Regions from separate parts of the Homo sapiens genome. Here all the other regions are linked to region 3. Evidence: fine-mapped expression QTL. A gene starts in region 3. Each other region holds a variant in brackets. All regions are shown on one strand. Distances are between the middles of the regions.

Region 1 (8,106 bases), 290 kb after region 3:
TTGTTTCACAGTGTTGTAGATCAAAAACATAACATAGGATGGAGCCAGTTTCAGATCTAGCAAGCTTTCAAAGCTATTGGCTTTAAAAGAATGAGGTCCTAAGACTAGGGCTTCTAGTTTTCAAAGTGCTGTGCAGAGTTTCAATCTCATGATCTCTTATCAACTCTGAAAGGGGACACCTTTGTTGTCTTTGCTGAGTAACAGTTAAAATTTTTCCATTTTAATTTCAATGGATAGCATTGTTATTTTATACAATATGAATTGTTTTATGAGGGGTTAGCTGTACAAGCTGGGGACTACAAAACTCTCTACTTATTTACTTAGTACCTAGAAAAGAAGTAAAGGAACAGAAGGAAAGGATTTTTTTTTTTTTAAACAGAGAAGAGATCAGTGACACACCTAGCCACAACTTGAGGCATTCTAGTGGGGGTTCAGTTTCCACGTACATGACTTATTTGGCAGAGCAATATGGTCCCAAGGTTTCTGATTCAACTGTCTTAAAAAAAATTTATGGCTAAAACACAAAAATTTCTGAGTGTGGGTGTGGGGGTTTTTAAGGCATAACTGTGGCGGAGTCAAAAGCTTTTTAGAAGCTCAGCAATTAAGACAGATTACTGAGATCTCTTTCTGAACAGAGATGCTGTGATCTCTTTGGGGAGGACCTGTCTGGGGAGGAAGCTGGAGGTTTCACTTCAGTGCAGAGTGAACTGGGGCAACCATCTTGCGTTCTTGAGATGGGACTGCCCTCCAGCAGGTTTTCTAACCTAGACTGCAACTTTCTTGTGAGAAAAGGAAAAATATTCTTTGGGCTACGGGCCTTCTTTAGCTAGTGGTATGTTTTGAGATGCGTGTGTGTTTTAGATTGCAAGCTTTCTAAATTTCTTTTATTTGTAAGAGTCTGTGATTCCATGTGTGTCTTTTTAGTTTGGCAGGAGCAAGTCTCAACTGAGAAAGAAGTGAACAGAAGGCTTTCTCTTTGTAGACTTCCGCATGAGATCAATTTCTTCTCAGCCCACTGTTCAGAGCAAGAACAGAAATGGAAATAGTTCTCTTTTTTTGCTGGCAACCAGGCAACTTTCCCTTGGGACAAAAAGTATCAAGGCTGATCCTGCATTTCCTCAACGTGGCAGATTGACTTTGGTTAAAGAGTCTAGTGAAATTTCCCTGTGTGAACACTAGATCCATTAGCTTTCTTCCCCAAAAGCTATTTACATGCTTGCCCTGCACATGTCTCTTGTTTGTCACCTATTTTTTTTAATTGCACCAAGCTTTGGCTCTATTTTAAACTATGTCCAGCCATTTACCATATTAAGGAAAAAAGCAGGTATTTATCTCATTCCACGAGGTGCTGATTGGTTGTAAAATGTCCTTGTAAAATCTGTTCTTGCTGTTAACCTCATTTGTATGAAGGAAAAGTATTTGGAATTTGCTAAAATTGCTGAACAAGAGGCAGAGCAGTCACTTCTGTAGCCTCGTGTTTGTTTTATGAGAAAATCCCGAGCCTCTAAGGACCTTGGTAAGTCTCCTGGTGGGTTCCTCTGGCTCTGGGTGAATCGGCCACTTGACATGGCCGTGCGCATTACTGGACTTTTCCTGTCTCATGCCTCTCCTGGGAGGGAGATTACAAGACTTCTCTTTGTAACCTAATATGATACATATCAACTTATACATCAAGAATTCATCCTAAAAGCTAAGCTGACATCTTTCTGGACTGACTTAAAGCCAATTTTTGGTTGTTTTTTCTTTGGAGATAGAGAACTTTGATCTAATAACACTCCATATATTACTCAACCACCCTGTGGGGCCAATCTCAGTTCCTTTAACCATTTATTCCCCTTGCGCCTTCCCAAATGTGTAATCCGTTTACATTTTCTCTTCTCTAAGTAATATATTCTTAAGGTATCTGTGACTCATTTTTTTTTGCATGCAAAATGTTGTGCTGTTTCTGTTCATGCTTCCACAGTGACCTTCTTTATCCACGTGCCAACCGTGCCATGTTTAGCCAGGCCAAGAGCATATGTGGTTTCCTTTGATGGCACAGCCCTGGTAACAGAGACAGCCATGAGAAACAGAAAGAGAATAGAAAAAAGGATCAGGCTGTGTTTCTGTCTAGAACATAGATCAGACTAAAAAGTATTCAATAAGTGAATTCTACATAAATAAAATTTCATTTCTATGTCATTTTCCTTGCTGTCTATACCACCTTTATTAATAATTAGAAAGCTTTCTTAGTGGGATATTTTGAAATTTAAAAGTCATCCCTTTTTTAATATCTTCAGAATAATAAAATACATTATAACTAGAGATTTTTACGCTAATTCAACCACTATCTTAGGGTCGAAAATTGGCAATTTGGTTGATCTCCCAATAATGGGCATTGCCCAGAAGCTATTGTGTTCCCCAAAGTAACACTGATAAGAGGAGACCACTCCCAGAATGCCATGGGCCCTTTCACTTGGAACTAGCATGGGTGTAACTTCTTTACTTCCTGAAGCTATATCAGTTACAAATATGTGGAAGCAGAGAAGATTAAGCTATTATGGAGAATTTTCTTCTGAATAATTCATATTATTTTTCCTGGGTAGAATTGTTCATTCCCAGCTCCCTCCCTTCAGATACGAACTAAATTTTGAAAGTTCAGTACATTTTTTTCTGAACATAGAATTCTGACCATGATAATAGGTTCTGGGAACGATCTGAGTTTTCAGTATTCCAGTGAACAGGATGTAATAAAAACTTCATAAAGAACCAACACTTTGTCATGTACTTCGAACATTGTTTCACTAATAGTGATTTTCTAGTTTTTAGCTCTTGAGAGCAAGTAACTTATCATCTTAGCTTAATTATTCATGGCCCTAAAATAAAACAAGAACACCCTTCCAAGTCATATTTTAGTAAGAATTGTCCTAATCTCAAAATCCCATATTTTAAATCAGTGAGATTTTAGGTTTTGTCACTTTCATGGTAAGTTTTTTTTTTTTTTTTCATTCTGGAAGCTTTGCCATCAATTCATTTTCTGCATGATCTGGTTTTCGATTGTCTTTGTTAATGCAGAGCCATCTTGCTCAGTAAGAAATGAGCATGCAAGGACCCAAGGCCAAGGAGTTGATGTTATTTAAGCCTTTCTGGGGCAGAAGCTGTTTAGAAAAGCCTGTTTCCCTTGCTAAGTAACTCATCTAGAGTCGTGGGTAGTTCTCTTGTTGTTTCCCTAGTCAAGACATCAGGTTCTTTACTGTCTCATCTACATCAAATAAAAGCTTGAATCTTGCAGAATAGATGGAATTTATTTAGATGTCTGTTACTTCATATTTATGTCCTCCCTCCCAATGGCTATAACAATCCTTAGCTTTTTGTGACAAAACATGCACAATCCCAACCCTCTCTTTCTTCTTTCTTCTTTCCCTCCTTTCCCTTTTGGAAGGGCACTCTTAGAGAGAAGGATTGGTTTTTAGACTACCATTGCTACAGTCTGAATGCCTTAGTGGGAAGGGTTGAGAGGACTGATTTAATAACTCAAGTATTTATTGAGTGTCTACTAGATGCTAGAGATTGAGGTTACCTGAGTTTGGCTTGTGCATCTCTCACTTCCAGAATGGCAGCAGTAGGGACAAACTGAAGTAGTGCTGTTCTGAGCTTGCTAGTGTGCAAGTGTTATTAAGATGACTTCACAATGGCAAATTGGAATAGAGTACTTGAGACCCAGCTAGTGGTATCTCTTAGGCTATAGGAAAGAAAGCAGAGAAAGATTAAGAGTGACTGCCATCCAAGCATGGGGGAACTCCAAGTTCTCTTTGAGGAAGAAAATAGAAGCATGTATGGACCAGGGCAGTTGTTTCACCTGGTTGAACAGGCTTCTTGGTA[T/C]AGACAAAGGCAAAGCACTCAAGAAGACATCTGTCTGCTGCTGAGGTAGTGGGACAGACAGGGCATAGGGGACTCTTTTTTACTTATTTTGCCTCAAATGCTATAACCCTGCAAGGAGAAATAAAAGCTAGCATTCGTGGAGTACTTACTATGCGGTAGGATTTATTTTCAGCCCTTTATATGTAATATCTAATTTAAACCTCATAGCAACCTGGAAAAGCAGGCACTATTATTTTTCCGAAGAGGAAACTAAAATACAAAGTGTTTGAGTGCCTTGCCTAAATTCACGTAGCTAGCAAAAGATGGAGCCAGGCAGTCAGATTCCATAGGCTGAGACCCCTTATCAGAAAATTGGACTCCTTGGGAGCAGGTTTCTTGTGCCAGAAACTGCAGGGAAAAAAAGGTACAGAATCTCTAACAGAAAGTTAGTTTCTGATAGAATTTAGATGATTTTGTTAGTTTGTCTATAGGCATGGAATCATTTGATATAGGGGGAGGGTGCATGGTCATATTTGATGAGCACACACATTTCTTCAAATTTCCCCAAATTTGCTCAGAGTTTGGAAACTTCAGTCCATGAAGCTCTTGTAGGTAGTTTTGTTCTTTTAGAAAAACTCATTCTCCAGAGCTGGCAAAGCAGAGCCCTGGAGCTCCCCGGGGACAGTGGGAAAATTTTTTCTCTTAAGTCAATTGAGCTAAAGCACCAGCAAAGTGGCATTTTATAGAAGAGCCTTGATCAAAGTCAGTAAAGCTGAGTATATTTCCTTAAACATATCTTTAGGTAAACAGGGAGGATGCAATAAGATTTTAAAATAACACAGTTCAGTCAGTGAAACAATTGAAGATACCCATCTGATTTAAACTGAATTCAGCAACTGCAACAATACTATCTGATGAAGGAGATTTTGTGTCACATGTTCAAAGCTGGCTTTAAGTCTTAAGAGGTATCAAAATAATCAAAGTGTTTTCTTTGCCCTTAGCCATCAATGAGAAAGAATTATAAATGGTTGAAATATTTATGTTAATCAGAAACCGCAGTTGGGAAGTGAAAAGAAAGGCTGTTTCTGAGCAGAAAACAAGGAGGAGTGACCCTGTTATTACAGCTTCTGTCTTAGAACAGTTATACACTCTCTGCTTCAGATCCTAGCTCCAGGATATCCCAGGCTTCTTGGAGGAGGCCTTTTAATGTGAGGGGAATCAGAATTGCTAAAGGGATCCTCAAACTTCATGAATTAACCTAATCATCTGGAGTGATTTTTTAAAGATACAGATTCCAGGCCTCCCTTGGAACTTCTGCTCTAATAGGTTCAGATTGGAATCCAGGAATATGAATAACAAGTCTCCCCGTATGAGAGTCCTATGATCAATCAGGACCGGGAGCCACATTTTGGTGTACCCATTTTACAGATGAGTAGACTGAGACTTGGCAAGGATAATTTACACGCTTGATCGCTGCTCTAGATGTGGAGCTGAGACTCGAATCTAGAATCTCTCTCTCTCTTTTTTTTTTTGACTCTAGATTGAGTGCTTTTAAAATGTCTTTGGGTACATGTGAATTGGGCAGTTAGAGATGAGTGTGTGTGTGTGTGTGTGTGTATGTGTGTGATATGCAGATACATAAGGGTGAGGACCTATCAGTAAAAGGTGTTAAATATTGAACTATTAATAATTACACTATAATTTTAAGTATGGTAAGATGAGCAAAAATCTCCAACTCTTGGAATAAAAACGTTTATCCCATGAACATATAATTATTTAGTACCTAGTCTTCTGGGAAAGGTAAAAGCACAAGAAAGAGAAATAAGATACACTTTCCTAGGAGTTACTTCAGGACAATATTCTAAAATACTTTGTCCAAGGCTTACATTCACATAGAAGAATCATACCTGACATCTTAGAAAAGATAATTAGACAAGACAGCGAAGAAGTGTCATATCACTTGTATCTCCTCTTCCCAGTCCAGTAGGCACAAAGCACTCTCCTGTTCACTTCTGCTTTTTCTCCCATTAGATTTTGAGCTCCTTGAGGTAAAATATGACTTGGAAGGATGTTCTTGTTTTATTTCAGGGCCATGAATAATTAAGCTAAGATGATAAGTTACTTGCTCTCAAGAGTTAAAAACTAGAAAATCACTATTAGTGAAACAATGTTTGAAGTACATGGCAAAGGGCTGGTTCTTTATGGAGTTTTTAAAGAGGGTGGGGATTGTGCATGTTTTGCCATGAAAAGCCAAGGATGTAAGTATTCCTACTTACATCCTTAAATGCCTAGCCCAATGTCTAACATATAATACTAGTGATCATAATAATAATTTATTGAGCTCATATTTAATTTAAAAATCTTATGATATAGGTAAGGTTTTAACCCCCATATCATACATGAGGAAACAGATATGCAAACACCATCTGGTTTGTTTAGTGAGGGTAGAGGAAGCTCAACTTTGTTCTCTGTCCACCAGAATGGACAAGGAGGGGGTTCAGGACAAGTTAGGACTTTTGACAAGGCCTGGAGAATGGATACAGGTCAAATGAGGAATCGGCTGGGGAGTCATGCTCCCTGCCAGAAGGAAGGAATGCTAATATACTTGAGAAGGAGGGAAGAAATAAAGGTAAGCATGCTTGAGTATCAGGTGCAGGTTTGTGTCCTCCATGCAGGGTTGAGAAGAGAGGCAGTAGAAACCGTGGTTAGAAAGGTGATTTGGGGTGGACCCAAGAATGGCCATTGATGGCCTTTGTGGACGACCTTGAAACCTGGGCTGAGAACCTTGGCTTTTATTCTGTCCACATTGGGGAGCTCCCAGAAGCTTTGAGGAGGGGTGATATGGCTTGGCTGTGTCCCCACTCAAATCTCATCTTGAATTGTAGCTCCTATAATTCCCACATCTCGTGGGAGGGACCTGGTGGGAGGTAATTGAATCATGGGGGCAGATCGTTCTCATGCTGTTCCCATGATAGTGAATAAGTCTCATGAGATCTGATGGTTTTATAAAGGGGAGTTCCACTGCACATGCTGTCTTGCCTGCTGCCATTTAAGATGTGTCTTCCTTCCCCTTTGCCTTCCGCCATGATTGTAAGGCCTCCCCAGCCACGTGGAACTGTGAATTATACCTTTTTCCTTTATAAATTACCCAGCCTCGGGAATGTCTTTATTAGCAGCATCAGAACAGCCTAATACAAGGGGAAACAATGTCCCAGAAAACGGCTATTCTAGGATGGCTGTGTCAAGAATTAGAAAAGGTCTGAGGCACCACAGCTCAAAGTCCCTATTCAAAGAAATAAAGACGTTTGGAGAAAGTACCAATTAAGGAAGAGAAGAGACGATGAATTTATCTTTGTATGTGTTGAGTTGGGGATTGAGATGCCCAAGTCAGGTGGCCATCTCTACCAGGCAGTTGGAACTATGGGGCTATGGAGTGAGCAGCAGAATGGGACTGGAGTGGATTTTTGAAGTTGGTAATAAATGAGATCTCTGAGTAGAAGAATAAGAAACAGGAAGAGCAGAATTCCGGGACCAAATATTGTGCACCTGTTCTATTCGGGGTCAGGAAGAAATACCAAGGCAGCAAATGGGCAAAACAGTAAGTGGAATCTGGAATGTAATGAGCTTCTGCATTTTATTAAAAAATACCCTCTTGTATATGATTAACTGTCTCATGTGCTCATTTCTCATGTGTGTGTTTATCCAGTGAGTTTTTCTTCCCAACTTCCGACAAGACACTTCTACCACGCTGCTTGCCAACTGGAAATCTTGCCAGGACCTTAAACTTAATATTTCCCAAATTGAACTCGGCTTCTCAATTTCCAAACTTGTCCTGTGTTCTGTGTCCTCTATTAGTAGTGACAATTTCCCATCTCCCAGGCTCAAACGCTTCAACTGTATTCCACTTTTTTCCAAGGCCCAGAAGGTTGACCTCAGTGCTGCTTGTAACTGCCTGGCCTCCCCTCCCACACCGCTGTACTTGAGTTCAGGCCCCCAGTGCCTCTACCTGGGGATGTTGCACTAACCTCTTAATTCATCTTCTCAAGTTTGCACTCTCCTCACTCTAATCCATCTTAAACACTGCGGCCACCAGACTCATCTTTTGGCATCTGATCTCTTGACTCACCCGATCCTCTTAAAGATCTTGCATAGCTTCTATTTGCTGACAGCAGTCATTTCATATTTGGTCCCTCATATGAAATCTTGTCCAGGAACTCTAGTATGTCAACTAGATAAAAGCAGACTGTCCCAGTCACAACAGGGTAG
Region 2 (8,106 bases), 240 kb after region 3:
ACCCTCTGGGATCCCCACTTTTGTGCACTAAGCAAATAGCAGCAGGAATGGGACCCACCTCGACTACCCCAGCCGAGATCTAACTATAGTGTCCCGGCTCCCTCACCCGCCACCCCTAGAGATTTCCCCAGTTAGCGCCTAGTTTCAAGCCAAAGCCCTTTAAATCCCTCTCGCAAGGGATAACAGGGCTCGGCCAGGCGCGGGTGTGAGGCTCCGCCCGGCCTCCTTCCCGAGTAGTCACTCACCGGCCAGGCGAAACTGAAAGGCAGCACGATGCGGTTGCGGTCGTTGCCGCGGCTGGCCTTGAGGTTGAAGGTGTTGCCCCCGATGACAGGCGTGGACCCTGAGCCGAAGCTGCAGGGCCCCCCGGCCGTGACGCGGGACTGATACTCCTTGAGGCACACTTTGAAGTATGTGTCACACTCGTCGCGGGTGCACTTGCGGTCTCCCGGGTTCCGGGCGCCGCCGCAGCAGTTCCCGTTCTGCAGCTCCCCGTTCACGTTCTGCATGGACAGGATCTCCAACTCGAACTGACCCGAGGCCCCACACACCTGCCGGCGAGGGAAGGAGGTAGGTCAGCGCGGGAGAAAGCTGTTTTCTTCGAGTATAGAGGTGGCGACTCCCTCCCACTCCCCGCCCCGACGAGCCCTCCTCGCCGAGTGAAAATAATTTTGCGAAACTACGTTCAAGGACTCAACATGATTCCGGGGCAAAAAAAAAAAAAAATGCACGAGTGCGGAAGAAATCCGACGACTTCCCGGGGGGCAACAGCGGAGCGAACGCGCCCCTGTCCGGCCTGGAGGGGTCACCCTCAGGAGGCAGGGGCTCCCGTGGGGGAGTTGGCGCGCTCAGCCCAGGTGCAGCCGCTCGGGCGCAGGGGCGAGGAGTCGGGCGCTCGAGGGCTGCCGAGCCTGCTCGCGGGGCTCAACCGCCCAGGGCGCCGCGAGGGGAGGGAGAGGACGGCTGGGAGGGAGGCCCGGAGAAGGGCTCCTACCTTGGCTCGCAGGGCACAGAGCAGGGCGAGCAGGAGGCTTAGGGGGCGCCCGGACCGGCCGCGCGTCCGTGGGGAACGCATCGCTGCGCCGCGCGCCGCGGGCACTCGGGACGCCGCCGCTGCTGTTCGCGCTGGTGCTGCCGCCGGTGCTGCCGTCGCCGCTGCCCCTGCGGCCGCCGCGTCCCGGCTCTAATATACTCCGCCGATTGGAGCATGCACGACTGGAAAACAACACCACTTTTCAAAAGCCCTTTCAAGAGCGGCCCGTTCCAGAAGGCAAAGAGCCCGGCCTCCTTTTATTATTCTGATCGCTTCTTTGAGACGCTCCCCCTCCTCTTCCACCTCCCGGCTTTCTTTCCTTCTCTCGCGCTCCCCTTCTTTTATTATTATGATTATGCGCAGCCTTTTATTCCCTTTTAGATCAGCTGCATGGAAAAAGGGGGGAGGGAGGGGAGAAAAAAAAAAACCAGCCTAGCTCGCGGGCCGGCCGCAGGTAACACAATGACGCGTGCCCGCCCGGCTCTCGGAGAAGGACCCGGAGAGCCCGTCTGGCAGCAGCGGCCGGGGCTGGCCACCTCTACCCAGCACGCCGGGCAGGGCGCATGCGCGCTTATTAATATTCATGAGAGGGCGTGCTCACCCTGGGCACGCCCCTCCCCTTCACGTTGCTGGGGAGGGGGTAGTGCGAGGAGGAACTTGGAAGGGGTTGGGGGCAGCGGGATGCTCAGGGCGGCGTAGAAGAACCAGGGCCCCACACCAACCCCCGCCCTCGGGAGCTTCGGGCCAGGAGGGAAGGGAGAGTGCGGGGAGGTACTTGGAAGGGATCGTTGCTCAGGGACGCCTGGAGGCCCCCAGCGGGGACCGCCCCCTCGGGCGCCCCGGGCCGTGCGCCTTTGCCCGCGCGTCGGGGCCCCAGGTGTAGGCGCCGCGGCGCTGACTGAGCGGTCGGAGCGGGGCAGCTTCCGCCTTCCGAACCGCCTGCGTCAGCTGCGGCTTTCGCCCCGGGAGGAGGGCCTGCCTGCCCGCCGGGAGTTCGGCCCGCTTCCCGCGAGCGAGCCGCCCAGAGCGCTCTGCTGGCGGCAGAGGCGGCGGCGAGGCTGGCGCGCTTGCCGCCGTCTGCTCGCCCCGCGGAGGCGACCTGGGCAGACGCTGCTGGGAACTTTGAAAAACTTTCCTGGAGCCAGGCTTGCCGCAGATTCGAGGGGAAGCCTCGGCCGCGTCCCACCCCCTCCCAAATCCGAGTCTGCGGAGCCTGGGAGGGCTCCCAGCTTCCTATCCAAACCGCGCCGGGGCAGAGGCGCGGGGAAACCGGGGGTAGAAGGCGGCGGGCACGCCGGGGCCCTGTTCAGGCTTTGGGAAGGGCCGGCGGAGATGCTGGTGGGCTTGGACGCCCTCCCCGGCCCGACGCCCCGGCCGCAGTGCCGGGATTGCACCTGTAGGCGGCCTCCGAGCAGCTCTCTGGGTGGCAAGAGATGGGCCTGGGAGGGACCGTGTCCCCAGCACCGCCAGCCGCGGAACTTGCCTTCTCTGGGGTGGCAGTGGAAACCGATACTGTTTTCCACCTTGAGGCAAGCCTCGCAATTAACAGCTACACTCCTGGTCATAATCAAGGTCGAAGAAAGCCCGTGGGCTGGCCGTAGCCTCTGCTAACCCCTCTCCCACGGGCTTGCTGTTGCATTTGAGGGGACCTTTATATGGAAACATCGACTTCCTTTGAAGGGTGGACAAAGTTTTGGCCCTAATAGTAGGTATGTCCTGCAGAAAAGCGTGACTATTCAGCGGCCGGTTTGGGGCTTGAGTTCTCCTGGGTGTGGGGCGTGATGGGCTGGCAATAGGTCAAGGGAAAATAGTTTCCAACATGCTGAGTTATGAGCATAAAAGGGTGGGTATTTGTGGTTATCTACTTATTGCATTTGATGGGAGGCTCAGTATGAACAATATTTTCAGTGCCAAATCTCATCATTCTGAGGAATAAACTAGGGCAGCTAACTGACCTCTTTACATAGGTTCAAAGCTACCAAGGATGGTTAGGAGTCTTGGCATTTTAACAGCCTAAGAAATGCTCCTAAGAAAAGTGCTTACTTAGTGGTAATGTGTCCCATCTTGAGCACTGGCGGGAGAATCCATGTTTTGGAAGGGAGGTTTCTAAGAACAGAGCAAGTTTACAGCTGGTCATGTTAGCAGCTGGGGTAGGCAGCGACAACCTGGGTGTTTCAATGTGCCCCAGCCTCCCTTTCCCCAATTATCCTAAATCAAGGCAACCAGTTGTCAACTGTAATCCCATCTACACTTTTCTCACTGAGGTTTCCATCAACACCAGTCTCCCCACTTATCTGTCCCGTTCTAATTTCTACTCCCAAGTATCCCTGAGTTTGGGTGCTAAATAACGGTTTAAAAGTAAAATGGGCCGCGAGCTGTGGGTCACGCCTGCAATCCCAGCACTCTGGGAGGCCGAGGCGGGTGGATCACGAGGTCAAGAGATTGAGACCATCCTGGTCAACATGGTGAAACCCGGTCTCTACTACAAATACAAAAATTAGCTGGGCGTGGTGGCACATACCTGTAGTCCCAGCTACTCGGGAGGCTGAGAGAGGAGAATAGCTTCAACCTGGGAGGCGGAGGTTGCAGTGAGCTGAGATCATGCCACTGCACTCCAGCCTGGCGACAGAGCGAGACTCCATCTCAAAAAAAAAAAAAAAAAAAAAAAAGGCAAAATGGTGCTGAAAAAGGCTGGTGTGATCTTAAAGAGCACACTCCTTGGAGTTCCCTATGTCGGACCCTGTTTTAATTCTGTGCCTTGTGCCCCCCACAGCTCTCAGGAAAGAGGCTGCGGAGCCAGACCTTTAGTTAAAGTGTTTAGATCTCCACCTGGCTTCACCTAGAAGGGCTACCTGAGATTGCAGGTGCCACCAGTTGCAATCTGGGCCACATGCAAGCTGGTGTCACCTCCAGTCCACCAGTGAATTTAGCCCATTTGAC[T/C]GATAGGAAAGAAAATATAAACTCTGAGAGGTGAAAACTACCTGATTACACCTAACAAGAATGTCAAATCACTGATAAACACAAAATTTTTATGTCACATAGCACAGAGTCCCACACCCTTCCTGAGCCTGGGAACCCACTTTTAGAGAAGGCAGTTGTGGGCTAGAGGGAATTCTTTTGAAAATTTTCAGTTGGGGCTCTTCCAAATAATTGGGACTCCCCCAAAAAGCCAGTCACGTTTACCACAACAGACACTGAGTGGAAGCTCTATCCTCTGCTTCCTTGAAGCCGGTTGTCAGGCCCCCTCCTTAGAGAATGAGGAACTGCTGCCGAGAGAACTGAAATACAGAGATTCCCCCTTGGCAGGGCTTGTCCTGCTTTGGGGTATAGCCTCCAAGTGTAAATGAATATTCCAGAACAACCTTCCTGTGGAAAATGCCATCTTTAGCTGTCATACCTACACCTGAGAGAAGGGGAGAGGCTTGTAGTCAGTTACTATCTGACCTGTCTCGTGTGCTCAAACATCATCCTTGGATATCTTTTCCTTTAATTCTAAAAAGATGATGGATGCCTCATTTTTTCTTTTCCCAGAAAACTTGCCCCACTTTTATCTAGTCAACAACATATAGCAGTTCTGAACCTGCAAAAGCTTTATAAGAGACATTCAAGCTATATTAGCTGTATTTAAGTACATCTAATCAACTGTAATCCTTGGTTAATCAACACTGTGGTTAAAATAAGCTAATCAATATTTATTGAGAACTGCTATTATAAGCAGTAACATCGATGATCTAAAAAATATTATGTTAAGTGAAATAAGCCAGACACAAAAGACTACATCCTGTATGAATTTATTTATACGGAGTTCCAGAACAGGAAAAACTGGTGAAAAAAGATCACAAGAGTGATTTTGAGGGTGGGTGGGTGGGAGCAGAGCTTCACTGGGATGGGCTTGAGGCTCTTCTGGTGGCATTGTGGGGTAATGTTTCATATTTTTGATAGGTGTTTGGGCTACACAGGTGTATGCATTTGTCAAAATTTATTAAATAGTACATTTAAGATTGTATTTCATTAGGTGTTCAAAAGAGGAAAAAAGAATTGTGAACAGATATTCACCTCCAGTTATATGAGTGCTGAAGCATTTAGCGGGGAAGTGGAATGATATCTGCAACTGACACTGAAATGCATACAAAATTAGAGGGATCAGAGAGGATGGCTGGGTGGGTGGTTACACGCTGAAGCAAAATAGTAAAGTCTTTTTTTGTTTTTTTGAGACAGAGCCTGTTGTCCAGGCTGGAGCGCAGTGGCACAGTCTTGGCTCACTGCAATCTCCGCCTCCCAGGTTCAGGTGATTCTCCTGTTTCAGCCTCCCGAGCAGCTGGGATTAGATGCATGCCATCATACACGGCTAATTTTTGTATTTTTTAGTAGAGATGGGGTTTCACCATGTTGACCATGGCTGCTTTAAAACTCCTGACCTCAGATGATCCTCCTGCCTTGGCCACCCAAAGTGCTGGGATTACAGGCATAAGCCACAGCGCCCAGCCAGTAAAGTCTTAATGGTAGAATTTAGGTGTTACAGTGGTGTTCACTGCAAAATTCTTCGACATTTTTCTATGTTTGAAAATTTTCCTTCTTAAATCTTGGGGAAGATAGTTATTGATTTGCCAGGTATTTTGTGGGTGCCAAGAATATGGTGGGCAACACCACAATACTGGTCTTCAGCACTACTGAGTGGAGAGTGTGTTTCAAAGGAATGGTGATACTGTAGATTTTAAGAGTGAATGAGGCTGGGAGCGGTGGCTGACGCCTCTAATCCCAGCACTTTGGGAGGCCAAGGCGGGCGGATTACCTGAGGTCAGGAGTTCGAGAACAGCCTCAACATGGAGAAACCCCGTCTCTACTAAAAATACAAAATTAGCCAGGCGTGGTGGTGCATGCCTGTAATCCCAGCTACTCAGGAGGCTGAGGCAGGAGAATTGCTTGAACCTGGGAGGCAGAGGTTGCGGTGAGCCGAGATGAGATGGCACCATTGCACTCCAGCCTGGGCAACAAGAGCGAAACTCCATCTCAAAAAAAAAAAAAAAAAAAAAAAAAAAGAGTGAACGAAAGGAAAGTAGTTCTTTCTTCCCATTCTTCATTCCAGTTAGGTTCAAATTGTAGAGAAGGCACATGTAAAATATCCATTAAGATCTTCCTTATTCCTTGTTTGAACTTGCAGAGATGTTAACACAAGTTCACAAATCCTGTTCCACGGATATGTTATCTTTCTGCCCCTTTCCAGCAGAGCCCAGTGAAGCTCACATGTCCCGCCAGGTTACTGCCTCCCATGAACCTGTCCAGCCAGCTCCCTAAGGAAGCACAACATCATTCTCCCACATCACAAGATATTCTACATGGAAAAAAACCCACCACCAACCTATAGATAACAGACACTGAAAATCAGGGTATAGTTGTAGCAACCACAACCAGGCCACAAGTTTGCTCATTCAAGCATAAGTTGAGTAGATCCAGCTATTTTTTTCCCAAAGATTCATCATATGTACACAAGAGATCTGGATTAATTTTTTGAAACCAGAACTGTGAATTTTTTTGTATTATCAACAGTGATTTTGTATGAGCGCATGTTAAACATTGTCTTGGTTTTATCTTGAGCCCAGGTAGTTATGATTTTGTCCTCCCTGCCCCAATCCTGTTTCATAGTCATTATGTGGAAAACCATCAGGATGAATAGAATTATGTGTCCACATACCCTTTACCAAACCAATCACAGAAAGTCGCCAAAAAACTTACATGCAAAATCTCAGAACTACGAGACTAATATTTACATTTTACTCCTTAGTTAAAATCAAATGTTCTTTGTGAAGCTAGAGTGTGGGAGAAGTCCTACGTACAAAATGTACTTTTTTCTTAGAGTTCAGTCTTTTCAGGGAAAAAAAAAATTCTGCGTGTAAGTTGCTGTTAAATTGGCATTCTCAAAACAACTGTAAATGATTCACATATCCTCCTTTTTTTTGGCACTGATACAGTGAGTCGTCTGTTCTTGTGAATGGCACTTGAATGACTTAACCTATAGATATTCTGGGATGGAATTTTTTTTTAACCAAATTGGTCCATTTGTACAGTCGACTGATTTAAATGCAACTAACAATTTTCTATAATTGTGAAGTATGACTGATCTCTTACAAGCCTTTTCATCTCCTGAAAGGTTCTGGAAATTACACTTCCAGAAGCAGGTAGTATTTGGAAACTACCACAATACAGTTTTCTCTGTGAGTACCTTTCATCTCACTTGCACTCAGCTTTTCCAAACAGATGCCTCCAGATCTCAAATAAATAAATAAATAAGGTAAAGTAGTTGCTGGAACTTGAGGAAGGAGAGCTAAATGTATTTAGTTATCTGAGAAAATTTCAAATTTTCACATACATAAATGTGAGAGTCAAAGAAAGGTGATTGCACCTGCCAATGGCATGAAAATAACAGAGCTTTGAATTACATATTTCATGTTCAGGTTAATGGTCCCAAATAAATTACAAGACTGTGTCTGTGTTTGACACTTTTGTTCTCAAGCCAGTGGTTTCTGTACTGATGGCTTCCTCTAAATTAGAAGTTATTAAGAACATCAAAAGTGGATCATTGCAATGCTTAGGTTTGATTTCCCATTGGGAAGATAAATAGTTGTTTTTATTATTGCTTTATGCTAACAGCACTTAAGGATGACTAAATAAAGAAATACTAGCTTCAGCACAGAAATATTGGTACAAGTAACAACTATACACTTCTAGATCCTTAGATATTAGTCATAACATAGGTTTACTGATACATAGATTTTCATAAGCATCATTCAGAAATCATTTCAGAGCAATATCAGAAGTTCTTTTTGCTTTTGGAAATAAGGCTAAGACATAGAAAACTTAGAAAGACTATAAAGAAGAAAGTTTAATTTCCAAAAGATGGTTATTTCCTCCACTGAAGTGATAATATTTCTTAAAAGCCAGATAAAAACTAGAGAAGTCAATTATTCTATTTCAGGATAGTTTGGCAGAAATTCATGTGAAGAGAAGTTGGGGTCGCGGGGGTGGGTTTCAACAGACCACACAGGTAGTGTAATGCAGATACTAGGAAGGGCAGG
Region 3 (8,106 bases):
CCACCTATTCATCCTTATCAAAGATCTGTCTTTGGTAGTGTTTGTTTCCTGGGCGGTCTCATTCAATCCCCAAACTTCTATGATCATGCATCCACTCTGGCTCTCACACGTTCATCTCCAGCTTAGACCCACATAATAAACTGCTACTGTACACCTTTGAACTAACCGTCCCCACAAATAGTCTCAATTCATCTCATATAAAAATAAGTCCTCTTTCCCTCCCAAACTGCTGTTCCACCTGGATTTCCTGTTTCGTTAACAAAAAGCATCATCTACTAAGCCATTCAATTCAGAAATCTGGATATACTGGACTCTGCCCTTTTCCTCATGCTCCTCATCAACTCACTCAGCACATCCTGCCATTTGACATAAGTGTTTCTTTACATAATCCCTCCTCCCTAGGGTCACAGTCCAGACCCTCGCGCCCTCACATGACCTCCTTGCTTCAATTCCAGTAGTTCTCAAACTGTGGTCCTCTCAACAGTGCCATTAGCAACACTTGGGAATTTACTAGAAATGCAAATTATCAAGCTGCCCCTCCTGACCTACTGAGTCAGAAACTCTAGGGTGGGGTCCAGTAATCTGTGTTTTAATTAATTCTTTAGGTAATTCTGAAGCTAAAGTTTGAGACCCACTGTTCTAGTCTACATCCACTAATCCATTCTCTACACTTTTAATATAGCCATCTTGCAAAACAAAAAACAAAAAAACAAAAACAAAAACAAATCTGGTTGTATTCCTGCTTTGCTTAAAAGCCTTTAGTGACATTTTTGACTAGAGTGAAATCTAAATTTCTTAGTACAGCAGAAAGAAAAATCCACTAGGATCTAGATCCTGCCTACCAGTTTTCAGAAAGTCAAGCACTTTAAATCATTTTTGTAAGAATGCATTGTCATGTAGTGATTAAGGGATGAGCTGTGGACTCATACCACCTGGCTTTGAATCTTCACTTACCACTTTACAACTGGCTGTGTGGCCTTGGATTAGTCACTTAATCTCATTGTGCTTCAGTTCCATTGTGTGTACAATGTGAATAATAACATCCATATCATAAGCTTGCTGTGCAGTTATCACAATACTTGGCACTTTGTCTGGGCTCAGTAATTGTTAGCTATTATTATTTTGATTATGTCAAAAAGAAAAAAAACATTACTGGAATTAACCTGTAGTATAGCAAGAACTGGAGAGGATTAGAATTAATGCCCAAACTAAGGGAAGTGGTCCCCATAAAGGAAGGCCCACTTCTCTGGGCAGTTTCAGTTAGTTAGCTAAGAATAAAAATACCCAGTCTCAACAGAGAGGTTCAGAGGTCTTTGGGGTTTGACTAGGGTAGTGAATCTGGTAATTAGATTCTAGGATATTATAGGACAGATAACTGTCAAGCTTCTAAAGTGAGAGCCAGGAAAGCTGTGAAGGAAGTCAGAAAACTGATACAGAGCAAAGAAGCAAAGACGGTGAAAAATTTCATGTATGTTTCTCTAATAACAGTTAATAGAGCAGCCAAGTGATCAAATGTGAGAATCCTACAATGACTGAAACTTGGTCGACATTTTCAGACACGCTGTTGGTCTGAAACAACGTTTTACATAAGAGCAAAAGCATTGAGTAATGGCGAGAATCAAAGTCTAACCTCCACCACAAATTAGTTATGGTCTTGGACAAATTACTTCTCTCCTGCCTCAATGTCATGATCTGAAATAGGGGGCCACATTATGAAGAGAACTATATACATTCATAGCTTAGTACAGTGCCTAGCATGTGGGAAGTGCTCAATACACGGCAGCCATTACTTTTATTGGGAGTATATTATCTTATACGAATCATATATAAAAATAGGCACCCCTGGAGGTTCCTGCTTGATCAAAGCAATTATATATTATCATCGAATATTTTGACTAAAATTGGGTTCCAACTTATAAGGTGAGGAAATACTGTAAAGACAAATCCAAACACAGTCATGTATCCCACATTCACAATATTTAGGGATTAGCAATTTTCACTTCAAATATGTACAAGATTAATTCTATCCAAATGCTCACTTAGTGTCTATTAGGTGCTAGCAAGACTACTAGCCTCAGGGGGGAACTACCAAGAAGAGTAAGGCATGATTCTTGTCCTCAAGGAGAATACAGGTTTGAGAAGATAATGGGACAATCTTAATAAAACATAACTCAATGCTGTATAGGGTCAAAAAACCAAACCAAACCAAACCAAACCAAACCAAACCAAACCAAACCCGCACAAAAAACTGCATAAAGTCTTTACCAAGTTGACTCATTTTTCAAAATCATAGTTCTCATTTTTTCCTCTATCCTCCTCTGAATTAGTCTCAATCCATTTTTACTTACTCCATCTTTAGTTACGGCAGGGAGTCAAGATCTAGAAAAACTAGTCACTGCCACCCACGATAACAGAAGGTAGCAGCCACTTGTCTTCTCTGCTATATTCCTAGTGCGTAGCAGAAAAGTAGAGAATCTTGTCCCCTTTGGTCCACAGAGGATGGCTTATTCTTCTGCTTCAGCTCTTAGTTCAGATGTCACCTACTCAGAGAGCCTTTCTCTCAGCACTCAACCTAAAGTGTTTTCCCTCTCCCTCCCCATTATTCTCTAGCACGTGATTCCTTCAAAGCCCTACCTTTGTGATGAATGCTGTGATGTGCCACCCTGACCCCCCTAAGGAATGAAAGGCTTATTTCCCCAGCTCCTGGAAGAGCTGAGACAGACCTCGGCTGCCAGCCTCCGTCCATGATTGACTTGGCTGAAGAGAGTTGAAGTTAGGCCCTTTCCAGGGAAACAGACATCTAACGACAGATCAATCAAGGGGTATAAAAGCCTGGCCCTTCTCTTCAACTTTGAAGGGCCAACCCAGCACTAGAGTTCCTGTGGGACTGGTGGAGAACATCCTTGAGACTTCACTGCAGCTTAACTTTTTCTATTGCCCAATCCTGCTTCCTTTCTTCCTTGGTAATCATCCAAAAAGTCTTCTCTAGTAAATGTCCTGCCTCTAAATCTCCTCAGAGTCTGATTCTCAGGAAACCCAACCTAGGACAATCTAGAAACATCTTGCTCAATATCAATGTGCAATCACCCCTCAGTATTTGGGGGATTGCATCCAGGACCCATGATGGATACCCAAATCCAGATGCTCAGGTCCCTGATTTAAAAATTGTGTAGTAGGCCAGACGCCGTGGGTCATGCCTGTAATCCCAGCACTTTGGGATGCCGAGGCGGGTGGATCACCTGAGGTCAGGAGTTCAAGACCAGCCTGGCCAACATGGCGAAACACCATCTCTACTAAAAAATACAAAAATTAGCCAGGTGCAGTGGCGGGTGCCTGTAATCCCAAACTTCTCCGGAGGCTAAGGCAGGGAGAATTGCTTGAACCCGGGAGGCGGAGGTTGCACAGTGAGCAGAGATCCAGCTTCAGCCTGCGCGACAGAGCGAGACTCTTTGTCAAAAAAAAAAAAAAAAAAAAAAAAAATCGTGTAGTTTTGTACACAACTTGCCACCTCCTTCCATGTACCTTAAATAATCTCTAGGCTACTTATAATACCTAATACAACGTTAAATGCTATGTAAGTAGTTGTTACACTGCAGTGTTTAGGGAATGACAAGAAAAAAGGTCTGCACGTGTTCAGTACAGATGTAACCATCTTTTTTCCCCCAGAATGTTTTTATTTATTTATTTTCTTAAATAGAGTCTCTGTCGCCCAACCTGGAGTGCAGTGGCGTGATCTCCGCTCACCGCAACCTCCGCCTCCAGGGCTCAAGCGATTCTCCTGCCTCAACCTCCCAAGTAGCTGGGATTACAGGCGTGCGCCACTGCGCCCGGCTCATTTTTTTGTACTTTTAGCAGAGACCGGGTTTCGCCACGTTGGCCTGGCTGGCCCCAAACTCCTGACTCAAGTGATCCGCCCGCCTCGGGCTCCTAAAGTGCGGGGTTACAGGGGTGAGCCACCAAACCCCGCCGCCCCAAAATATTTTCTATCCGCAGTTGGTTGAATTCACACATGCGGAACTCATGGATAGGGAGCGTATTGTTTCTCCCCCATCACTAGAACATGGAGTCAGGACCGTGCAAGTCCCTCTTGGTCACTGCCGTATCTACTAACTCGGCAGTGCTGTAGACACGTGTATATCTGTTTATGGATAAACTGAAGATGTTAATGAATGAATGAAACCGTCATATTGAGTCTCTGAAACGGCAACAGGATTTGGGTATGGTCTTATCGGGGAGGAAGACGAGCATGACCTTAGAGGGTCATCCCTACAAGGTCCACAGCCCTGCAAGCCCCGCGGCTGCTTTCACGTAGCTGGCAGGGCCACGCTGCACAACGTCTCTAACGCCGTCGGAGGGCGGCCCCCACCTCCCGACAGCCTGGGGTACACCGTGCACCCTCCAGACAGTCAGGGGCACACGGGGCCCCTCCCAGCGAGGGAGGGGACGGGGAGTCACAGGTTCGGCGTAGAAGGCGGCAGCGCAGGTGGGAGCGTGGTGAGGCGCCACTCCTCCAGCTCTCCCCACCGGCGGGAAGACCTCCTCGCCGCCCGCATCCGTGCCGACCGCAACATTTACCATCGGCAGCTATTTCAGAGGTCGGTCTTTCGCCTCCTACAGAGAGCCAGCCTCCTCCTTGTCCCCGCCCTCAAATATCCTTCAGTGAGGACACCGGTGACCTTTGGGGGTGGAGAGGGAGGCGCCTACAAGCCCCTTCCCCTCTCTTCGGCCGGACACAAAGCGGGCTTTTCCACCTAGAGTCCCAGCGCTCTCACCTGCGCACCAGCCGTCGCGCCGCCCCAGGCCGCCACCGCCAGAGGCCCCAGAAACAGATCTCAAGCAGCCGCTGCTGCCGCGGATCCCGACAACCTTCGCGTCGCGCGAGGGCACGGAGCACGCGCAGCTCTGCGGTCGACGCCGGGCCGCCCCCACTCCGCTTCTCCGGGTTTTCCGTGAAGCTCCAGCCAACAGCGGCCGTCACCGGAAAAAACGGGGAGCGAAGTTTATTCAGCGTATATTCCAGCAAATTGTTGAAACTGAAATTTTAAAAGAACGCATAAAATTTAAATAACATATCAAAATGGCACAGCTTCTGCCTTTTGGTGAGCGCTTGACAATGATTTATTGAATGAAAGAAAGAAATAGTCCACTGCGCTCTGCTCTCTGTCCTGACATGACCAATTACAAAGCGCTTGGATTTGTCGCTCAGCGCCAGTATCCCGCCTCTCTGTGCGGTTGTCTGGAAAATCAGGATTTTTACTCTCCCGTAACTCCCGGGATCGGGTTTGGAAAACGGACATGCGCCGTGAGAGCTAGTTGCCTTCTACTAAAGCATCCGCCCTCAGTCCTTCCTGAGGGCTTACAGGGAAGTGCGGAGTTTCGCAGCTCGTACTCTTCACAGATTAGATAATTCACCCGGCATTTCCCCATCCTGCTTCTGGGTTCCAGGACAAAACTTTTATTCTCTTTTAACATTAAAAAACATATAGGAAGTTATGTTCAAACATGGCTATTTTTATTAAAATTTATCCGGCACTGTGAAAGCTACCTTTCCTTTCTCACAATCTTTCGCACCGAATATATGTTCCATTCTTGAGCTAGTCATTTTCCAATGTTAAGAAAACACACCACAGAAAAGCGTTTTTTTTTCTCTCGGTCAGTTCAACTGCCTAGCACCGTGAGTTACCATGATACGTTATTTGCTAATGAGAGTCATTGGGGTCCCAGCCTTTAAAAATAGCCTGCGTCCGGCGCCATTTTTGTTTTGGGCCCACTTTGAAAGCCGCGATATTCTGAACAGAGGCCATTTTTCTTTTGGGCAGATTCCACGGGCCATCGAAGTGTTTCGCTGCCATCTTAAATCCTGGCTGTGGCCTCAATCCTGCAGCGAAGCTGCCCAGATCATTTTGTGTTTGGGCGGCGGCTGAGTTCCCAAACGCGCGCGGAGACCCTGGGAAGGAGGAAGTAAGCGCGAAAGTGCTTCCCTTAAGCTTCTGAAGGTTGGCTGCAGTTCCGGCTACCTGTGTAGTCCGAGTTTCCACAGCCAGGTACTACTCCGCCAGTGACCCTGGACAGTAACAAAACATATAAAGCCCGAGCCCAAACCCCGCCACCATCATAGGTAAGCACATGGACCTCTGACAACCTCAGATGTTCCTTCAAGTGAACTGAACTGTTTGCCCATCTCCTCCCTCCTGGTTTTTGGCTTTGATTTTTTGAGACTTTTCCGAATCCTTCTCCCTGTACTTCCACCTTTCTTCATTGTTTTCAAAAAGCCAAAAAGTTGCTAAACATCAGGATGCCATGAGCATGGGCATTACGGTGGAGATATTATTCAGGAAAGTTAACTGTCTTTGCACAAAGGGAATGCAGTAGATGGGCCAGGTATTTGTATCAAATCATGGCTACCTGCATCCAGCAGTACAAATACCTCCCCCTTCCCAGACATTTTTGGAGATGTGAGGTAAATACAGATTGCGTTTGTATATACTTCCCATTCATTCATTTATTCATTGCATTTCTTGAGTACCTAATTTGTGCTAGGCCATAAGGATTCAGGAGTTAGCTAAAAAAAATCCATTAACTCATGGAGCCTACATTTTATCACCTTGACATCTACTAGGTTGAGACAAATAACAGTATTTTATGGTTCTTAGCACTGCTAGACTGTATAAACAAGTATTTGCTTTCTCCTTCCCCTGAACTATTTTTTTTTATTTTTAGTTTTTAATTTTTTTGGCCGGGTGTAGGAATTAATGGTATTGACACTTACTTCTTGGATCCTAGACATAACGATATTTGTAAGCCAGTTGGCTAGCGTTAAAACTAATATTCCAGTTACTTAGGGCCTTGTTGCTCCAAGTTCATTTCACCTACCACCAGCATCAGCATCCCTGGGAGCTTGTTAGAATTACACTTCATGACTCTCACCCCAGAGCTGCTGAATCAGAATCTTCCTCAAGAAGTGTACCTTAAAGTTCAAGGAACATTGATTCAGGGCATGGGCTAAAGATACAGCCCTTTCTTTCTTTCTTTTTTTTTTTAGATGGAGTCTCGCTCTGTTGCCCAGGTTGGAGTGCAGTGGCGCGATCTTGGCTCACTGCCATCTCCGCCCCCCGGGTTCAAGCAATTCTCCTGCCTCAGCGTTCCCAGTAGCTGGGATTACAGGCGCGCGCCACCACCCCCGGCTAATTTTTGTATTTTTAGTAGAGACAGGGTTCGCCATGTTGGCCGGGTTGTTCTCGAACTCCTGACCTCAGGTGATCCACCCGCCTTGGCCTCCAAAGTCCTGGGATCACAGGCCTGAGACATCACGCCCGGCCTGGCCCATTCTTTGTTCAACCCGTGCTTCTTAACTAGATTCACAGTGTATTATCAATTTATTGCATGTTCTAAATGCAATGGATATTTGACAGGTTTTTTTCTGTGCTTTTAGTTCATTGACTTGATGTTAGGGCGTCAATTTAGCTTTCCAAAAAGTTGAAAAGAGATTTTGTCATCCCAATATACTTATATGTAATTTCTGTTATAACATCTGAAATGTAGGGTTTTCTCTGTAAGTCTTAGCATCCAATTTACCACTGGTTTGCGTTTTTTTTTTAAAAGTTGTTTACTGTGCTTCTTGCTTTCTCATATCTTGTATGCATATTTGTACTTTTAATTTGTTAAAAGTTGAACTCAAAAGTTTGCATGTGGACAGCAGTTCAATACTGACTTGGAAAACCTTGGGCCTTGGTTTACCAAAGCTTTTTGTGGCACCTTGCTTTCTTCTGTCTTCCCATTTTATTTTACTTCTTTTATTTTTATTTTTTGAGACAGGGTATAACCCTGTTGCCCAGGCTGAAGTGCAGTGGTGGGATCATAGCTCACTGTAACCTCCAACTCTTGGGCTCAAGCGATCCTTCTGCCTTGGTCTGTCAAAGTGCAGGAAAGCAGGCATGAGCGACTGCACCCAGCTGCCTTCTGTCTTTCTTTAATGAGAAGACTAAATCAAGAGTTCTCAGCCTTGGCTGCACGTAACAATCACCTGGGAGCTTTAAAAACAGACTCCAGCCCTGTATCTGCAGAGATTGAGACCCTCTGGATGAAATTAAAGAGCCAGTAAGGAGT
Region 4 (8,106 bases), 30 kb after region 3:
AAGAGAAGAACTGATGATGAGTGCAAGATCTTGGAGATGCTTTCATATATGTTGGTGTTTCTTTAGGACATTTTCTGTATGCTAGTCTTACCATAAGTGCAAGTTCAAAACATCAAAATATAAATTACAATAGCTAGTTGGCCAGATTAGATACTATGTAATATTATAGCTCTGTCTTATTTTTAACCAAGTCAGTGCTTATTTAGATTTACTAACATATTTATAAATTTCATTGCTTTCAGTTGTTTTTTGTATCCATATATATATTCTTTAGTATTTCTTTCTGTGAAGGCATGTAAGTGATGAACTTTCACTATTTGTGTGTCTAAAAATGTATTTGGTCTCACCCTAGAAAGATATTTGGTTGGTTTTAGAATTCTAGGTTGAGCATTATTTTCCAACAACAGTTTAAAGATAATTTTTAATTTTCTTCTGGCATCTTTTATTACTACTGAGAAATGTTTTCATTATGTATTGATGCTTAAATCCACCTTAAAACTTAGTGGCTTGAAACACGAACCATTTTATAATCTCTCCTGATTCTGTAGGTTGCCTAGCATCAATTGAGTAATTTTTCCTTTTGATGTTGGTTGGGGCTGCAGTTCTACTTAGGGACTCAACTTAGGTGGAAAATGAAAGATGGCATACTCAGTGCAGTTGATGCTGGCTTTGGTTGGAATCATTGCTGGATCTGTTAATTGTTGTCCTTTAGTTCTCATCCACGTGCCTGTTCTGCATGGCTTGGGCATCTACCCCGGTGGCTGAGTTTTGAGGGGTAGCATCTTAAGACTTGCACAATGAAAGAAGTATAATTTGTCAGTCCTCTGAAGGCCTAGATGCAGACATCTCAGATGCCACTTCTGTGGACTTCCATTGATCAGAGCATTCACAGGGTCAGCCTAGAGTCAGGGGAAGCTGCACTCTTGACTTGAGAAGCAGTATTTTCTCACAGGGATTGGGAGAATTGTTGGGGTGCGTCTATGGAGACTACTCACCTCAGAAGTTCACTGTTGGCCTGATCTGATTCCTTCTTGGTTATCTGTCTTTCTTCTCTGATTGCTCTTAAGATTTATTTTTGTCTTTGCTCTTCTATAGTTTCACTATGAAATCTCTAGTTATAGTCTTGTTTTTATTCTGGCTTGGGATAAAATGTATGTCTTCAATTTGATGGCTCAAGTCATCAGTTTTGGAAAATTCTTGACCATTTTCTCTGCCTCTCCTAATTCTCTCTGTTCTCTTCTTATAGAGAACTTTTATTTGAAGTTTGTTGGATAGTCTCATATGACTTTATTATATGCTAGAGGAGTGAGATTAATTTTTCCAAGACTGAGCCCTGGTAGTCTGTCTGCTCAGAAAAGGGCTGGGCTTCTTGCAAAACTCTGTTGAAACTGGCTATGGCCAAGTAGGGCAGACCATCCTGGTCAACCATGAAACTTGGACGTGAGGCCCCTAATTATGCAAGAGATGGGTCTGTTCCATACCCATGGAAATGGCATATTCTGCTACCATATTATCCCATCTTATAGTGATGCCTGCAAGGCTTGGAACAAAGCTTCCAGATCATGGCAGGCAGAGGAGTTGCCTCAACCGTGAGTATCAGGCTAGCATAATAGGGATAGGGACAGGGTTCTGACACATCGTATTGAAGGCTCTGCACATCACTTTGTGGTTGTATTTCTGCCTCTGACAGGCTAGGGACCAGTGGTTCTCTAATCATGTACCTTACTTAGAAGCTCCGTGACTCAAGCATGGGGATCCCTTTTTAAATATCTGACATGAAGTTTTGCCAGGTTTCTGTGCTCTGCTCCAGGGTATCATGAGCAGCAGGAGACCTGCACACCTGCTACTGATGTTGTCAGACATGCTTTCTTCCCAGGGAACACTGCTCCTGAAGTCTTGTGTGAGTGCTGTGTGGCCAGTGGCCAATTGCCTTTCCCTGTTTTTCTTTTCCTTATTACTTTGAGAGTGCTTTTTTCCTCTCTGAAACAGGATCTCACTCAGTCGCCCAGGCTGGAGTGCAGTGGTGTGAATATGGCTCACTTCAGCCTTGACCTCCTGGGCTTAAGCAGTCCTCCTGCCTTAGCCTCCTGAGTAGCTGGGACCACAGGCATGCACCACCACTCTCGGCTAATTTTTTTTATTTTTAAATTTTTGTAGAGATGGAGTCTCAGAGCGAAAAAGGAAGGTATTACATATAACCACAAAACAAGGTTAGGATGTTACGAACTAGGGAAATTCCCAAGAACAAGAAAGAGCTCTTATAAATTAAAAACATAATATAAATGAAAATATGATAAAGTATGGGGCAAACACCAAGGAACACTGCCCAGAAAGTAGAACAAAAAGATAATAGATTAAAAAATTGAGGAGAAAACCACAAGAAAATTAGAGTTTCAGTCTTGATATGAAAAATTGGAGTTCTAGAAAGAAAAACAAATGGTTGAGAAAATATTATGAAAGAAATAATGCAATACAATTTACTGGAAGTGGAGGATACAAACTTCCTGTTTGAAAGAGCTGTGAGTGAATACACAATAAAGTCAATGAAAAAGAGTTGTGCTAAGGTATATCATCCTAAAATTTCAGAACACTGGGAATTTAGAGAAGAACTTAAAAAGCAAACAGATTACAGACAGAGAATCAAGAATCAGAACACCCTTCTCAACAGCAATAACTAGGAGACAGTAGAACAATACCTTTAATATTTTAGGAAAAATGGTTTCCAACCAAGAATTCCCTTTACAGCCCAACTTTCAGTCACATGGTAGAATAGAGACATTTATTTTTAGGATGCAGAATGTAGAAAACACTTCCCTTCTGATGCACACTGTTTTAGAAAGGATGTGGTCTTCCAAAATAGGGGAATAAACAGAGAAAGAATCAGATATGGGATCCAGGAAATAGGGAACCAGTCAGATGAGGGCCTAACCAAATTCCTTGATGATTACTGTGTATTTTGCCTAGAAAGTGTAAGGGTGGAAAGGGTATGATCCTTTCTTCCCCATCATGGAGGGTCACAGTCAGCACTCCTGTAACAAAAGAATAAGTTAACTAAGGAAAGCATAACAAATTTATTATGTGCACACAAGTGCATGGGAGTCATACAAAATATGAACACTCAAAAGCTGGATGTGATGGCATATGCCTGTAGTCCCAGCCATTTGGGGAGGCTGAGGCAGAAGATTTGCTTGAGCCCAGGAGTTTGAGTTCAGCCTGGGCAACATAGAGAGACCCTGTCTCTAAAAACAACAACAACAAGAAAAGAAAACCCAAAGAGCCAGACGGTTGACCCTTAATACCCTCTTCGTTGGGGAGAGGGAACTGGGAGATATAGGGGTAACTGATTTTTAGGGGAAATGAATGGACTCGAGAGACAGAAATTAACTTGTAAATGATTCTCTTTAGAATTTGAATGAGCCGAGAAGCAGATAATACCTAGTTGAAATGCCTGTCCACTGTGTGGTTGCATTCTTTAGTCTTCTCTGCTATAGATAATTTCAGGGAATATGGAAGGCAATTGTGTTCCTCTTTGGGTATCCAGTTTCTGGGCAGATAATAGAGCTTCAGCGGAGAGCCTCATCTTGTGCTTTGGGAGAGATAACGGATTGAGAGGAGGAGGGGAGGAGGTCAGAGAGACCTTGCTGCTGCTTTTTTAGTTTAGCATGTCAAAGTGTTATATTTCTGGGTATTGGTTTCTGAACTGCAACCAAAGTAACCAGTCCTATTGGAAGAAGACAGAGGGTTCCATGAAAGATTTCTTCAACAAAAAATGAAATGAATAAAATACATCATGTATTTAAATGCATTGAGAAGAGATTTTTTTAGGCCTGTCAGGTAGCATGGGAATGATTTAGTCATAGGAATATAGAAAACTAAACAAAAGAAAAATGATGCAACCCTCAGTTCTCAGTAAACAAAAGATTGTGCAAGATAGGAAATTAAGCATAGT[A/G]TACTACGTGGCTCAACTTTTTGTTCTTCTTGTTATAGAGATGGGGTCTTGCCCTGTTGCTCAGGCTGGAATGCAGTGGCACAGTCATAACTCACTGCGGCCTTGAACTCCTAGGCTCAAGTGATCCTCCTGCATGGTTCAGCTTTGAACAGAGGTTACATTTCATAATATTGTGAACTCCAAGTTTTGGAAGGCTGGGGAAGGAAACATGTGGGAGGGCAGGTATAAGGATTAAGTCTTCATTTTCCACATAAAGTATATAAAACTGAAATAATAAGACATTCGTAGGATAAACATAGTGTTTAGAAATATGTTGGCAAATTACCAGATCAAAAAGCTAAGTTTCAGTGTGGTTGCCCATGGTGAGTGAGAGTTGGAGTGAGAGAGGGGGCTGGATGAGGCAGAAGAGGCCATTTTGTTTTTTTGTTTGTTTGTTTGTTTGAAAGATGGGGTCTCCTTATGCTGCCCAGTCTGATCTTGAACTACTGGGCTCAAACAATCCTCCTGCCTCAGCCTCCTGAGTAGCTGGGACTACAGATGTGCACCACTACACCCAGCTTGAGACCTCACTTTGATATGTCGTTTTAATATGTGTCTATGCATTAATATAAAAATTAAGTGCATAAATAAAATGTAGGCTGCGTACAGTGGTTCACATCTGTAATCCCTGCATTTTGGAAGGCCCAGGAGGGAGGATCACTTGAGGCCAGGAGTTAGAGACCAGCAGCCTGAGTAACATAGTGAGACCCCATCTCTAAATTAAAAACAATAATAATAAATAACATTTAAAAGGAATTAATTAACTTATGCAAATTTTTCACATAGATGCAGCCACTTTTGACTGGGTTGAAAAGTACTTGGTTAGAGCAGGGTTTCAAAGTAACAGAAAAATTGATGAACACCAAATAGTTTGACACTTCATCTGGGTTGTTTATTCTAAGACTGCCCTTGGAATGGCATTAATTATTCATGCAAACGACTTACCCATCTGACCTTCCTGCATATGAATACTTTTTTTTTGTTTTTAAGGGCTGTGGTTCTGGCCTTGAATTCTTTTTTTTAATCACTATTTTTTAGAGACAGGATCTCGTTATGTTGCACAGGCTGAACATGAACTCCTGGGCTCAAACTGTCCTCCCGACTTGGCCTCCTACGTAGCTGGGACTACAGGCGGCACTGCCACCGCACAGCTGGCTCTTGAACTCTTTCAAGAGTTGAAGACTCTTCTGAGGCCAGACTTCCAGGAAATGGCAGTAGTGCATGAGATGTAGGAATCCTTGGAAGTATAACTTTCAGGGTCTATAGACTTCTGGGCTACTGCAGCTTCTAGCAGGGAGGTATGTCCTGTACTTCAGTGAGTGACTCTTATTTTAACTGAAAGAAGTGGTAGCAGCAGGCGCATCTCCCCAAGGCTTCATAGCAATCTTAAACCCAAGCTTTGCACCCACCCCAGTGTTTTAAAATTTCCAAAATAATAAACTCTTTAGGGTAGGGAAAAGATCTAGACCAGAGATCTGCAAATTACAGCCCACATGCCAGCTGCTTGTTTTTGTAAATAATGTTTTACCGGAATCCAGCCACTCCCACTTGTTTACATATCATCCCTGGCTGCTTTTATGCTACAATGAAGTGGAGGGTTGAGTAGTTGAAACAAAGACCTTATTGCTTGCAAAGTCTGAAATAAACACACTCACACACACTGATTTATGTATAGAATATGTATACAAATATATCTTTTATTTATCTATTTTTTTGAGATTGAGTCTCGCTTGTTGCTCTGTCGCCCAGGTTGGAGTGCGGTGGCAAGATCTTGGCTCACTGCAACCTCTGCCTCCCAGGTTCAAGTGATTCTCTTGTCTCAGCCTCCCAAGTAGCTGGGATTACAGGCACATGCCGCCATGCCCAGCTAATTTTTGTATTTTTAGTAGAGATGAGGTTTTGCCATGTTGGCCAGGCTGGTCTCAAACTCCTGACTTTTAGTGATCCGCCTGCCTCTGCATTCCAAAGTGATGGGATTATAGGCGTGAGCCACTGTGCCCGGCCTACAAATATATCTTTTACAGCACATCTCAATTCCTATTAGCTGCATTTCAAATGTTCAGTAGGCACCACTGGCTAGTATCGGCTGTATTGGCCAACACAGATCTAAATTGCTGTATCCTTGGTACTCCTACCTCCTGGTACCTTATCAGAATAAGCATTCAATGAAGTTACCTTGGGTTAAACTGGCTGCAGGTGTGGGGTAAGTTAGCAAGGCCAAGGTAAAGCCATTTCCTTTGCAAGAAATAGACATGGACACATAATGTAATAGTCATGAATGTTTATCCATTAAAACAAAACTTTAGTAAAATAAAAAAGAAATCCAAATATCAAATTATTGTTAAAAGTGTCAAGTGATACACATGGTGTCTACCTCAGGAAAGTTTATGTGTCCACCCGCTGCCTTAGAGGCATTTGAAAAAGTATAGAATGTTGCCAGGGTCGCTCTCAATAATAATTCTAACTTATGATTTTGAATTTAAATTTTGGGTCCCAGCGGAGCAGTGCTGTGAAAGTTTCCTACCTCATTGTGTGTCTCTGTAGATAATTTCCTCTGCTTCCTGCATCTGTTTTCTTGGATTAGTTAGGTATTATACTAAAGTCTAGAATTCTTTTGGCTGCAGAGCTTTCTCTGCTGCTTCCCTTCCCCCCCAACCTACTTTATTGTGGGTGGGAAAATTTTTGTTGGGAGGGCTTGATTAATTAGAAGGGATTCCTGGCTTCCCTAGCGGTGGCAGCCTGGGAAGATTACAGAGCCTGGCTTAGTGACAGGCCAGTCTGTATTTAAGGAAAAACTCGGACCCGCCAGATTTCTCTGGAATGTGCATCTGGCTTTGTCTTCTACAGGGAATGTGTAATGATCCCCTCCTCTTTCTTCCCACCCATTCCAGGAGGCTAAACGCTTTTACTTTTGCTCTTGATGGGGTTGTCTACTTTTTATTTTGGGAGAGGGGAGGGCTGGAATTTAGGGGTGGGAAGCTTGAGTCGTTTTCTGAATCTAAAGTAAAAGATTTAAGGTTTTATTAATATTTAGGAGGAAAGGAGAGATTTTATTAAAAAAAAAAGAACTCCCTGCATCTTTACTATCAATGTTTTTCTTTCCACTCTTTCAGAGCAATTATAGTTTTATATTCTTCTCTGAATTTCAGTTAACCTTAGTCTTCACATTCCTTAGAACACCACAAAAAGAGAAATAAGCCTAAGAATTGACAATGATTTCCCCTTTATAGTAAAAGTATAGAGCAGCTCTTTAAACTTTCAGAGAAAGAGACAGTTGAATGGTAAATGGGTAATCACTAGGCTTTTGTCTTGCTAGTTTGCCTCAAGGAATCACTTAAATCCTGTGTCCTAGGTTTTTTCGTCTACTTAAATGGGAACGTGGTACTGACTATTATCAGTGCTCATTTGAAAATGGCTGCGTTGATTTTGTGTATCACATTGAAAAGATTTATGCAATTATTTTCATATCAATTGAGTTCTAGGTACTGATTTTTCTACACATTTTAAGAAAGAATAAAACTGAAGTGCCTAAACAGAATAAATCACAAACATTTTAAATGGTTATATTCCTTACTGGAAATAACTTTGGAGTGTGCAACCTTTGTCCCGAAGAATGATTTTACAGAGATTTGTCCCTGTGAAACTTTTAAAGTGAAAGAAGTACCTCTATATTTCTTCTCCTGATACTTAAAGTCTGCATCTTCCAATTCCTCCTTAATTTCATGTATTCCTTGTAAGAGCTTTATGTTTTAAAGACATACAGGGTCAATGCGAGTTTGCAGAGTGGTTGATGCTATGCCCAAACTAACATAGGATGCTGTTTTCCCATTCAGTATCATTGTTCTATTGCTTTGCTCATGCTGGAAGCTGTATTTAAGTAAGTATGTGCTGATTTCGTGAAAGAATTGAAATAAAATTAGTAAAAGTTTTCACACCAGCAGTCACCCAATGAGTTTTATCTCAGGCTTAGAGCTTTTAGATACCTTCTCACTCTGTAAGGCATCTGCTCTGAGTGTTGATGACTTTGAAACAAAGTTCTTGGACTTGAAATTAATTTTTTTTTTCTAAGAGTTCTCTCTGCCTTTCTGGCCAGACACCCAGTTTTCTAGGCTTCATTT

Direction of the effects. Alleles are on the strand shown, and positions count from the first base shown. SD is a standard deviation of normalised expression in the study named. Not every link is listed here.
For the expression in anterior cingulate cortex of the gene that starts at base 4,887 in region 3, C is the high allele of the variant in region 1 and T is the other (moderate effect, 0.71 SD a copy in GTEx).
As copies of C replace T in region 2, the expression in left ventricle of the gene that starts at base 4,887 in region 3 goes up (moderate effect, 0.46 SD a copy in GTEx).

Evidence for each region. PIP is the estimated chance that this variant, and not a neighbour inherited with it, causes the effect.
Region 1: its variant is fine-mapped to the expression of MKKS in anterior cingulate cortex (GTEx, PIP above 0.99).
Region 2: its variant is fine-mapped to the expression of MKKS in left ventricle (GTEx, PIP 0.95).
Region 4: its variant is fine-mapped to the expression of MKKS in whole blood (TOPMed, PIP above 0.99).

The regions. Positions count from the first base shown.
Region 1 is chr20:10,719,706-10,727,811 of GRCh38, forward strand. No RefSeq gene overlaps it. Among named protein-coding and RNA genes, the nearest start is that of LINC01752, 29 kb to the right of the region's middle. The variant T/C (reference allele first, on the strand shown) is at 3,862.
Region 2 is chr20:10,672,456-10,680,561 of GRCh38, forward strand. It overlaps JAG1 (jagged canonical Notch ligand 1), which reads right to left and starts at 1,544. Exons shown (of 26, transcript NM_000214.3): 1 at 995-1,544; 2 at 246-551. The coding sequence starts at 1,075. RefSeq lists a silencer at 1,767-2,166. The variant T/C (reference allele first, on the strand shown) is at 3,974.
Region 3 is chr20:10,429,336-10,437,441 of GRCh38, forward strand. It overlaps MKKS (MKKS centrosomal shuttling protein), which reads right to left and starts at 4,887. Exons shown (of 6, transcript NM_170784.3): 1 at 4,773-4,887. It overlaps SLX4IP (SLX4 interacting protein), which reads left to right and starts at 5,970. Exons shown (of 8, transcript NM_001009608.3): 1 at 5,970-6,118. LOC128706665 reads right to left here and starts at 4,887. Exons shown (of 3, transcript NM_001394148.2): 1 at 4,773-4,887. LOC128706666 reads right to left here and starts at 4,887. Exons shown (of 3, transcript NM_001394149.2): 1 at 4,773-4,887. RefSeq lists enhancers at 2,282-2,783, 4,734-4,793, 5,684-5,913, 6,074-6,123.
Region 4 is chr20:10,459,814-10,467,919 of GRCh38, forward strand. All of the region lies in intron 2 of SLX4IP (SLX4 interacting protein), which reads left to right. Among named protein-coding and RNA genes, the nearest start is that of SLX4IP, 29 kb to the left of the region's middle. RefSeq lists an enhancer at 6,759-7,458. The variant A/G (reference allele first, on the strand shown) is at 3,950.